Homo sapiens: one gene and its partner. Changing the gene in region 1 together with any one later gene gives a genetic interaction. Each region holds a gene or a part of one and is shown on either strand. Other genes may lie near its edges.

Evidence for each region. A genetic interaction does not mean that the proteins touch.
Region 2: changes in NOL8 (region 1) and MTRES1 together harm fitness less than expected from each alone (positive genetic interaction), as found in Homo sapiens cells (one large-scale study listed by BioGRID).

What each region holds. Positions count from the first base shown.
Region 1 is NC_000009.12:92,300,415-92,306,181, forward strand, and holds part of NOL8 (nucleolar protein 8), read right to left. Parts: intron 5,417-5,767; coding exon 5,339-5,416; coding exon of another isoform or gene 5,335-5,338; exon of another isoform or gene 5,334-5,334; intron 1,409-5,333; coding exon 1,137-1,408; intron 397-1,136; exon of another isoform or gene 393-396; coding exon of another isoform or gene 343-392; exon of another isoform or gene 1-342. UniProt on the Homo sapiens protein: Plays an essential role in the survival of diffuse-type gastric cancer cells. Acts as a nucleolar anchoring protein for DDX47. May be involved in regulation of gene expression at the post-transcriptional level or in ribosome biogenesis in cancer cells.
Region 2 is NC_000006.12:107,030,066-107,034,698, reverse strand, and holds part of MTRES1 (mitochondrial transcription rescue factor 1), read right to left. Parts: exon of another isoform or gene 4,595-4,633; coding exon of another isoform or gene 4,592-4,594; intron 1-4,591. UniProt on the Homo sapiens protein: Mitochondrial RNA-binding protein involved in mitochondrial transcription regulation. Functions as a protective factor to maintain proper mitochondrial RNA level during stress.

The DNA.
Region 1 (5,767 bases):
AAAGGAATATATCTTTACATTTTCAATACCCAAAACTTTTTGCTAGAACTGCTGGAAAAACTACTGCTATAAGATCAGGACAATCACCTCACAAGTCTTCAAAATTTCCCAAGTACTTAAAAAACATCTTTCAAGTTGCTGATGTCTTTAGGACTCGTTTCAAGGTCAATTTCTCACGTTTTGCTCTCAAAGTTAGAAAAACTATCGTTACTATTTACATCATGCCAACTCTACTCAACAGTTTATATAGACAAGAAAATGAAGTCTTATTTGCAATACTTTTTGAACAACTACTAGATTGTTATACTTCCTTTTAAAGTACCACGGAGTTGGTATTATCTGCTAGTGAACCGAGATTGCACCACTGCACTCCAGCCTGGGTGACAGAGACTCTGTCTCCAAAAAAAAAAAAAAAATTATTTTAATCTACCAAACACATGTATGCTATTTTAACTGCTGATCTTTAAAGTAGAATCATTGTAGTTAGGTATGTGTGTATTCTTCTGTATAGGTATTACCTGCTTTTACAGTGGGAACTTCCAGAAAGCTGGAACCCTGGGTGAGGAACAGGTCAGGTGTTTTTTAACCTGTGGCCCATGTTGGCCTTTAGAGGTAAGCCTCTTGAAATGAAATGCAAAACTGTATGTACTAGTGTTTATACTTCTCTCTAGGTTCTGGCAAATCTTCAAGGATAAACTGTGCAATAACTGGCATATTGATGACATGGCATATTTGTGTAAAACCAAGGTTACCTATATCTTCTTTTATCTTATATATAGCACTAGTTTTCCATAAGTCATAGCATCTTCAGCTTCATTTAAGATACAAAGCTCTTTATGTGATTTACTATACTTCTTCATGACGTTTTACTTAACAGAAAAGATGCTGTACATTATTCTCTGGCTTCCCTTCATATGGCAGCTAGTAGAGATTTGCTTCCTTAAATGCAAAAATAGTTTCTTTCACAGCTTCAGGAACATCGTGTTTATGCTCCTGTGACACTAAATCTCAAATCTTCTAGGTAGAAGAAAGAGTCCTTTCTTCAGCTAACATGAAATCTGTTACACTTAATGCAGATTCAATCAATTAAGTTCAAACTGAATAAAATAAAAAAGTATGGGAAAAAAGAAAAGTACCTTCCTTTATGTCTTTAGTGTCTGAATCAAAAAAAGAGAACGTGAACCCGCTGGGCTGCTCAGCGTCACTGGTCAGAGCTGCAGGGTCCTGGATTTCCTCAGGTTTCTCTTTACCACAGTCCTCATTCCAGGGTGTGCCCTCTTCCTTTTCACTGGTATATTTTGTAGTTTGGAATATTTCTTTCAGATCCATAGCAATATTATAATACATTTCTTTAGACACCTCAGGTAGTTTCTCAGCTTCCTCCCTTTTCTTTTTTCGTTTTGCTTTACTGAAATGACATATGTAGACATGTGCATCACAAAGAAACAAGTTTTGGGAAATTTCCAGAAATCAAGAAAAGAAAAAATCTTGGACAACTTTAATTCTATCCTATCAACAACCAGAATATAAAACTCTACTTATAAATAGAGAAATAAAATAAGTAAAACTCTACATATAGAACTCTACTAATAGAAGCAAAATCTTGATCAATAAGCTTTTTTTACACAAATCTCAAACAGCTGCATGAATCATATTCTATCATTCTCTGAACTACATTTCAGAAATTATGCCTAAACTATACACCTAGGTATAAGTAAGGAAATCACTTAGCTTCACTAGGCCTCAGTTTTCTCATAGGCAAAATGAAAACTGTAAGCCACATGACTTCTAAGATACTGGGAATTTTACCAGTAACTGGTAAAATTGTAAATCAGTTGTAGAAATTAATTATAAATATGTATAGTGTCTTTTGAAATGAAATTTTTATATTACCATAAATCTGCTCTGTATTTAGGAATGAATATGCTTTTCTCTTTGATCTGGGACAAAAAGTTACTTGGCAGTTTCCAATACTGAATTTTGAGCTAAGAAAATATTAAAATCCTTTTTCCTCGAAGACCAGGCCAAAGTTTGTAATGTACTACGTAAAATAATAAGTGAACAGGATATCCTAAATAACCATTCTTAGTGGTAGAGACCATATCAAAGAGAGAAACTTTTAGTATTTCGGTAAATAAACCAACCTCGTTAGGTTTTAAGACAGATATGCCTCTTAGGAAACCAAGCTCTATAAAAAATGGTAGGCAGTTCCAAGTGATTATCATTTAACCACCATGTGGTGGCTTTAAAATTTGTCCAAAAACTCTTTGTTACTTCTTCCTTCAAGGGGTGGAAGTTAATTCCCTCATCCCTTGAGTGTGAGCTGGACTTAGTGACTCTTTTAATGGACAGAGTAAGCCAAATGGGATGACATATAACTTCTGAGACTAAGATCACAGCAAAAGCTAGAAGGACCTTGAAAAAACTGTTAGTAGAAACCATATGGTCTTTGAGAAGGTTGCAGGTAAGGGCTTAAGAGAAAAATAAGGTAAATCCTATTGGAAACTGGAGAAGAGGGAATCCTTGTTACATGGTGGTAGAAAGTTTAGCAACACTGTCAACTGCATTGTGTGTACTGTGGAAAATGGAAAATGTACCTAATTAGCTGGGTGATCTAGCTAAGGAGATGTCCAGCGAAGTGTTAAAGGTATATTCTGGTTTCATCCTACTGATTACAGTGAAATAAGAGAGGAGAGAATGAAACTAAAGGGAGGAATTTTTTTTTTTAAAGGGAGCCAGGAATTCATGGTTTTGAAGACTCCTAATCTCCAGAAGGCAAATGACATGAAATTTAAGAAAGGGCTTCTAAGCAAAGATCAACTCTATGACAGCCTCAGAAAAACATGGTCTAAAGAAGGGGTTGGCAAACTATAGTCCATGGGCCAAGTCCAGGCTACTGCCTACTTATGTCTGAACTGCAAGTTAAGGAATTTTTTTTATCATTTGAAATGATAGGGGGAAAAACAAACATCATTTCATGAAAAAATTATATGAAATGAAAATTTCAGTGTCCTTTAATAGTTTTATCGGCACACAGCCTTGCTCATTTGTTTACATATTGTCTATGGCTGCTTTTCTTTTACAAAGGTAGAGTGGAGTCATCACAGCAGAGATGGTCTGGCCTGCAAAGTCTTATCTATTTACTATCTTGCCTGTCACAGAAAAAGTTATAGACCTCGGTCTAAAAATAAAACAAAATTCTTTGTTAAGACCCTAAAAAGAGATAAGAAGCTTCCAACTGTTACCCAGGAACAGTGGTGCACACCTGTATTTCCAGCTATGTGGGAGGCTGAGGTGGGAGGACCACTTGAGCCCAGGAGTTCAAGGCTACAGTGAGCTATGATTGTGCCACTGCAGTCCAGCCAGGTGACAGAGCAAGACCCTGTCTCTAAGATTATACAAAAAAGAAAATAAACTTCAATTGTTCAAACAATAGGGCTTCTATGGAGGTTAGAGGCATTATCTCTCAGCAGTTTCAGTAGAAGCCCAGGGTTAAAAAAACAACAAAAAAGGCTTATCTCAAAATGATTTGTGTGACTTTCATCTAACAGAGTGAATTCCAAGAAGATTCACAGATAACTTATGAAGATTTTAAGAGAATTATATTATCAGAAATACCACTAGACTGGACTGGTAGGTACAGGAACATTTCAAAATGAACAGGCTTTTGGACTCCCAAATTTCTATAAGCAAAAAGCAGGTTGAAAAAACTACTCAGCTGTAAACCTGTGCCAGCACTTATGAAAAGAGAAGGATGATCCAGAAAGCCAAGTCAACGGTCAGGAAGAATTATTCCTAGGCCCTCAGTCCTAATCAAAGACCTTCCAACATTTGTCTGTCTAGATTTCAGAGTTACTATGGACATGTGACTCCTTTGTGCCTGTTTTCTTTCATTGAACAGTACCTATAGTGGTTATCCAATGCCTGTTCCACCGCTCTATATTGGAGGAAGGGTAGATAACTTGCTTTTTTAGTTCATAGGTCTTATCAAACAGAACTGCACTCAAGGTACTGTACTCAAGGAATAACAGAGAAGCCTCATCTGTACTTAGATCTGATCTGAATGATGACATCCTGGATTTTGAGCTGATGTAAAGGGATGAGACTTCTTAGGGGTATAGGGAGGGGGTAAACATATCCTATTTGTTCAATACGGATTATCTGAAATAACACACATATATCCTACATTGGAGGGAATATTAATATTCTACTTTAGTCTAAAATGTGATTCTTTTTAAAAGAATAATTTTGGAACAATTTTAGGTTTACAGAAAGTAACGAAAATAGTAGAGTTCCTAAATAGCCTTCACTTTGTTTTCCCTAATGTAATTATGTGTGTATGTAACTAGGATATAATTGTCAAAATTAGAAGATTAACATTGGTAGATTACCACTAACTAAACTCAGACATTGTTTTGATTTCACTAGTTTCTCCACAAATTGTCCTGTTGTTTCAAGATTCAATTCAGGATACCACACTGCCTTTTGTGATTTTCGTGGCTATTAGCAGTTGGAAAATGAAGGATTTAAACCAAGCTGCTACTGGTTGCTCCATATATTTGCCATGTTTATCCAACTGACTGCACATCTATAGGAAACAGAAGCTCCTACCACACTAGATGGTTGAATGGTTGCCCCCCAAAAGCTATGTCCATGTCCTAATTCCTGAAACCTGTGAATGTTAACATTATTTAGATAAGGGGTCTTGCAGAGATATTAAGTTAAGGGTCCTAGGATGAGGAGCCCATCCAGGATTATCCAAGTGGGCCCTGAATGCTATCACAAGTGTCCTTATAAGAGGCACAAAGAGGAGAGACAGAAAAGAAGAGGCCATGTGAAGATAGAGGCAGAAATGGGAGTAATGTAGTCTCAAGCCAAGGAACACCAAAGGATTGGTGGCAGTCACTAGAAACTAGGAGAGGCATAAAACAGCTTTGTTTCCCTGAACCTCTAGAAGGAACATAACCTGTTCACTATCTTAATTTGGGACTTCTAGGTTCCAGAACTGTAAAGAAATAATTTTTGTGATTTTAAGTAACTAAGTTTGTGGTAGCTACAGAAGACACAAGAAACTAGTACAAATAAAAGGCATCATTTATACAAATAAAAGGTATAAATGATAGGAGTACATATCATTTATAGATTCCTCTGTTAAAAGGTAAGACCTCCTCCACCACATCAATAATTCCTTTCTAACTCTACCTGCACTACCCCTACCCCACCAATCTTAATACAGTGGGACCAATGAGTAGGATATTGGTTCCTACCTACATTTTTAATTGTCTGAAATGAGATTAATTTACATGATCCTATTGCTAAAAGAAGTAGCTCTACTTACCTTTCTTTTGGCTTATCATCTCTTTTTCTTTCGTAAGTGGCATGGTCTTGCTTCGTTGGATCATAATGTATGATGTCCCTATGTAAAAAAAGGAAGGGAGGTTGGAAGAGATAAAAACAGAACACTAATACAAAAAGTAAGTAGCAAATTATAATTCAGCACTAGGAAGATTCTAATTTTGCAGCAAGAAGAAGCCATATAACATCAGATAAGATAACTAGGATCTTACTAGAAATAACATATACATAGATTTTTCTTGGAGACAGAGTCTCGCTGTGTTGCCCAGGCTGGAGTGCAATGGCGTGATCTTGGCTCACTGCAACCTCCGCCTCCCAAGTTCAAGCGATTCTCCTGCCTCAGCCTCCCAAGTAGCTGGGATTACAGGCATGTGCCACCATGCCCGGCTAATTTTTATATTTTTAGTAGAGA
Region 2 (4,633 bases), on another chromosome or scaffold:
AGTCTCCTTAAAGCTCATTGTTTTCACCGTGGGCCAGGCATTGCTCTACACGTTAACTCATTTGTTCCTTGCGACAAGCCCATCTCAGTTATAGGGTCACACAGATACTCTTCAAATCTAGGCATCCGAGCTGCAAAGCCTAGACTCATTACTACCATGCTGAACTGTCCATCAGTGTTCTGACTCCAAGTTAAGCACTCTTTCTTCCACACCCTGACATCTATTTTCCTTTTTTTTTTCTGGAATAAAAACTCACCAACCAGTGCAATACCAGAGAGAACAGATAGTTTTCAGGGGTAGAAGAGTGGGAGGAACTGTTGCCCCAACTTAGAAAATATCCTAAGAGGAGACACCTAGGGAAGGGAAGTAGTCCTGTTTCTGTGTCAGACCCTGGGTGCCCACACTCCCCATCCATAAGTTCTATTTTTATGTTTTTCAGTATCTTTTTTACACTCTTTTCCTGACTTTGAGAAAAGTCCTAGCTTTATACCGTACCGTTGTTTACTTTGAGGAATGCCTAGATATGATGTGGCTCTCTGCTACCTGCATTAGGAAACCTTTCCTTGCAGAAAATAACTATTTAGAATCAGGTGCACTTGTAAATTCAACAAACATACCAAAATGTCAAGCCACGTATTCCCTTGTGTTTATTAGCTACTCACTACCTCTCATTGTGATCAGCTTAACTTTCTAGCAGGCAAACATTGGCAAATGTTGGAAGCTTAGATAAAATTCATTAAAAACATAAAATTGAGGAAACACATTAAGCTAATTCTTGCTGGAGATGATGACCATTTGTAGTTGTTAGCAGTGGGCACTCAGGGTCACAAGGGAGGACCCAGATTCTGCCTCAGAACTTTGTTATTATTATTATTATTTTTGAGACGGAGTCTTGTTCTGTCGCCCAGGCTGGAGTGCATTGGTACAATCTCAGCTCACTGCAAGCTCTGCCTCCCAGGTTCCTGCCATTCTCCTGCCTCAGCCTCCCAAGTAGCTGGGAGTACAGGCACCCGCCACCACGCCCGGCTAATTTTTTGTATCTTTGGTAGAGACGGGGTTTCACCATGTTAGCTAGGATGGTCTTGATCTCCTGACCTCGTGATCTGCCCAGCTCAGCCTCCCAAAGTGCTGGGATTACAGGCGTGAGCCACCGTGCCCGGCCCTGCCTCAGGACTTTGAAACTGGTCAGGGGAGCCCTGAGTTGGAAGTGGGGGTGCCAGAGAAGAAAGCTAACCAGGCACCCAGCTCCTCTCAAGCCAAAGCAGCACTGGAGAATACTGGGTTCCTTATAGCTCACTTGAAAAAAAAAAAAAATCTACTACTGAAAAATTCCTGTCCCTTTGTCATGGTCTCCTCTTCCTCCAGACTCCACACGAGTCACATCCTCCTCTACCAAGCCATGCCCCACATGCCCTTTTCCATACTCTGGTTGCACCAACACTACACATTTTTTTGTTACTTTTGAATTAAGTCACAAATTATCTCCCAAACTCTAAGTGTAGTGATAGGGACTACACAGTGCCCTGTTCTTCACTCCTCTGCTCAGGACATACCAAAACCAGTGAATGGTTGCAGATTCAATTTCTAGAAATGAAATGAGCATCCTGCCCATTACTATAGCCACCCCTACAATCACTCGTTCGCCCACATATGCCAAGTTCCTGGGTAGGCCTTGGTATAAAACACACAGTCCTTGTCACCAGGGAACTGCCATTTAAGTGGAATGTGGACAAGTAAACTGACTGCCAGGGCACAGATGTGAAAGCAGGTCCGGGGAGGCTGAACCCTGCACCAGCTGGAGCGCAGAGCAAGGATGCCTACAAAGTTCTGAGAGCAAAGGTGGCCTGAAACCGAGCTATGGGGAAATATCAAGTTACAACAGTGATTTTTTTGCTTGATAATGGACCAGTCCATTGGCATGCTGTTATTTTTCTCTCATTCAAGGATGAATGAGGATGAGCATTCAAGGATGCTCAGGCATTTTTTTATTTTTTTGAGATGGAGTCTTGCACTGTCACCCGGGCTGGTGTGCAGTGCTCAGCTCACTGCAACCTCCGCCTCCTGGGTTCAAGCAATTCTCCCGCCTCAGCCTCCCCAGTAACTGGGACTACAGGCACACGGCACCACGCCTGGCTAATTTTTGCATCTTTAGCAGAGATGGGGTTTCACTATGTTGGCCAGGCTGGTCTCGAACTCCTAACCTTGTAATCCGCCTGCCTCGGCCTCCCAAAGTGCTGGAATTACAGGCGTGATCCACTGCACCCAGCTCAGGCATTCTTGCTCTGAGCTCCAGCTGATGCAGGGTTCAACCTCCCCTGGACCTGCTTTTACATGTGTGCCCTGGCAGTCAGTTTACTTGCCCACATTCCACTTAAATGGCAGTTCCCTGATGACAAGAATTGCGTGTTTTACCAAGGCCTAGCCAGGCACTTGGCATATGTGAGGAAATGAATCAACGTGGGGGTGGCTATAGTAAAGGAGAGGATGCTGTTACTTTTGTCTCATTCAAAAGCAAGCAATTACACAAACCTCTTGCCTCCACTCCTCCCCAGCTACCACCTCTTTTCTTGCTCCTCTTTACCATAAAACTTCTCAAAACAGTTGTCTAACTCTCCTCAATTCCACTCCTTTCATTTTCTAAATCCAAAAGGTCATGTTAGTCCTCATCTTAATTGACTCCTCAGCAGCACTTGAAAAAACCGATCACGCCTCTCTTCTTCACTTGGTCGCCAAGACACCTTACTCTTGGTTTTCTTCCTGTCTCTCCTGTGGCTGCTGCTTCTCAAGACTCCTCTGCTGGCCGGACACGGTGGCTCATGCCTGTAATCCCAGCACTTTGGGAGGCCGAGGTGGGTGGATCACCTGAGGTCGGGAGTTCGAGACCAGCCTGACCAACATGGAGAAACCCTGTCTCTACTACTAATACAAAAATTAGCTGAATGTGGTGGCACGTGCCTGTAATCCCAGCTACTCAGTAGGATGAGGCACGAGAACCGCTTGAACCCGGGAGGCAGAGGTTGCAGTGAGCTGAGATTGCGCCATTGCACTCCAGCCTGGACAACAAGAGTGAGACGTCTCAAAAAAAAAAAATAGCTGGGCACGATGGCAGGCATCTGTAATCCTAGCTACTCAGGAGGTTGAGGCAGGAGAATCACTTGAACCTGGGAGGCGGAGGCTGCAGTGAGCCGAAGCCATTGCACTCCAGCCTGGGCAACAGGAGCGAAACTCTATCTCAAAAAAAAAAAAAAGAAAAGACTCCTTTGCTGCCTCCTTCTCTTCTCCTTTTTTCTTTTTTTTTCTTTTTTTTTTTTTTGAGACAGGGTCTTCCTCTGTTGCCCAGGCTGGAATGCAGTGGGTGGCGCGATCTTGGCTCACTGCAACCTCTGCCTCCCCAGTTCAAGCCATAGTCTCCCACCTCAGCCTCCAGAGTAGCTGGGATTACAGGCGCCCACCACCACACCCGGCCACTTTTTATATTTTTAGTAGACACAGGGTTTCACCACCTTGGCCAGGCTGGTCTGGAAATCCTGACCTCAAGTGACCCGCCCACCTCAGCCTCCCAAAGTGCTAGGATTACAGGCCTGAGCCACTGTGCCCGGCCCTCCCTGATATCTTAAAGTTGGAGCGGCCCAGGGCTCTATCTTTGGTCCTCTTCTCTTCTACATTCACTTTATCCAGCTCAGCTCTTAAATGTACCCAATTAGTTCTTACAAATGCATTATCAAGACATCAATCATTTCTGTGGCTTTAAATACCACCTATATGCCAACCACACCCTAATCTATATCCCCATTCCAGAACTTTCTCCCAAATTCCAGACTCGTACATCTGTGCAGAAACGAGTTAACATAACAGGCCTGAGACTGCTATCCTTAGAATGCCTGCTTGCAAAGTTGGCCCTTGGCTAGTGTCTCAGAACTTGAACTTCACGAGGGTTCCCACAATTCCCACCTGGATAAGAGTGGCTCACTGTGCTGGAAACTGTACAATGTGATTCTAAACACCTGCTTTTTTTCTGGGCGGCGGAAATTTTGGCACATTCTAGGCAGACAGTGCCTATGTGACTTTTTATTGGAAAAATGAGCTCTACAAGCTTTCCTGATAGATCTCTCACGTCTTGTCATAATTTGATGCTGCAAGAATTAAGCATACCCCATGTGACTCCACTAGGAGAGGACTCTTAGAAGACTGCACCGGGTTTCCTCCAGACTGTGTCCCATGCATCTTTTCCCTTTGCTTATTTTGCTTTGTATCCTTTTGCTATAATAAATCACAGCTGTGAGTATGACTACGTGCTGAGTCTTTTGAGTCCTCTTAGTGAATCAATGAACCTGGGGACCTGCAACACAATAGCTGCCTATTTGACACCTCCACGTGGGCACATAATAAAGTCATTCATACGATGTCACTCCTTTCCTCAAATCCCTACCAAAGCACTCAGAGAACAGCAAAGTCTCTACGATGGTCTAAAGGCTCTATAGGATCTGGTGCTCCCTCAACCCCCATTTCCTCTCCAACCTCATCTGCCAATTTGACTCTTGCAAATTCAGCTTCAGCAACACTGGCATCCTCCCCTTAATTAAGCACTTACCATGTGCCAAGCACTAATCTGGGCACTAGGAATTCAGCAGAG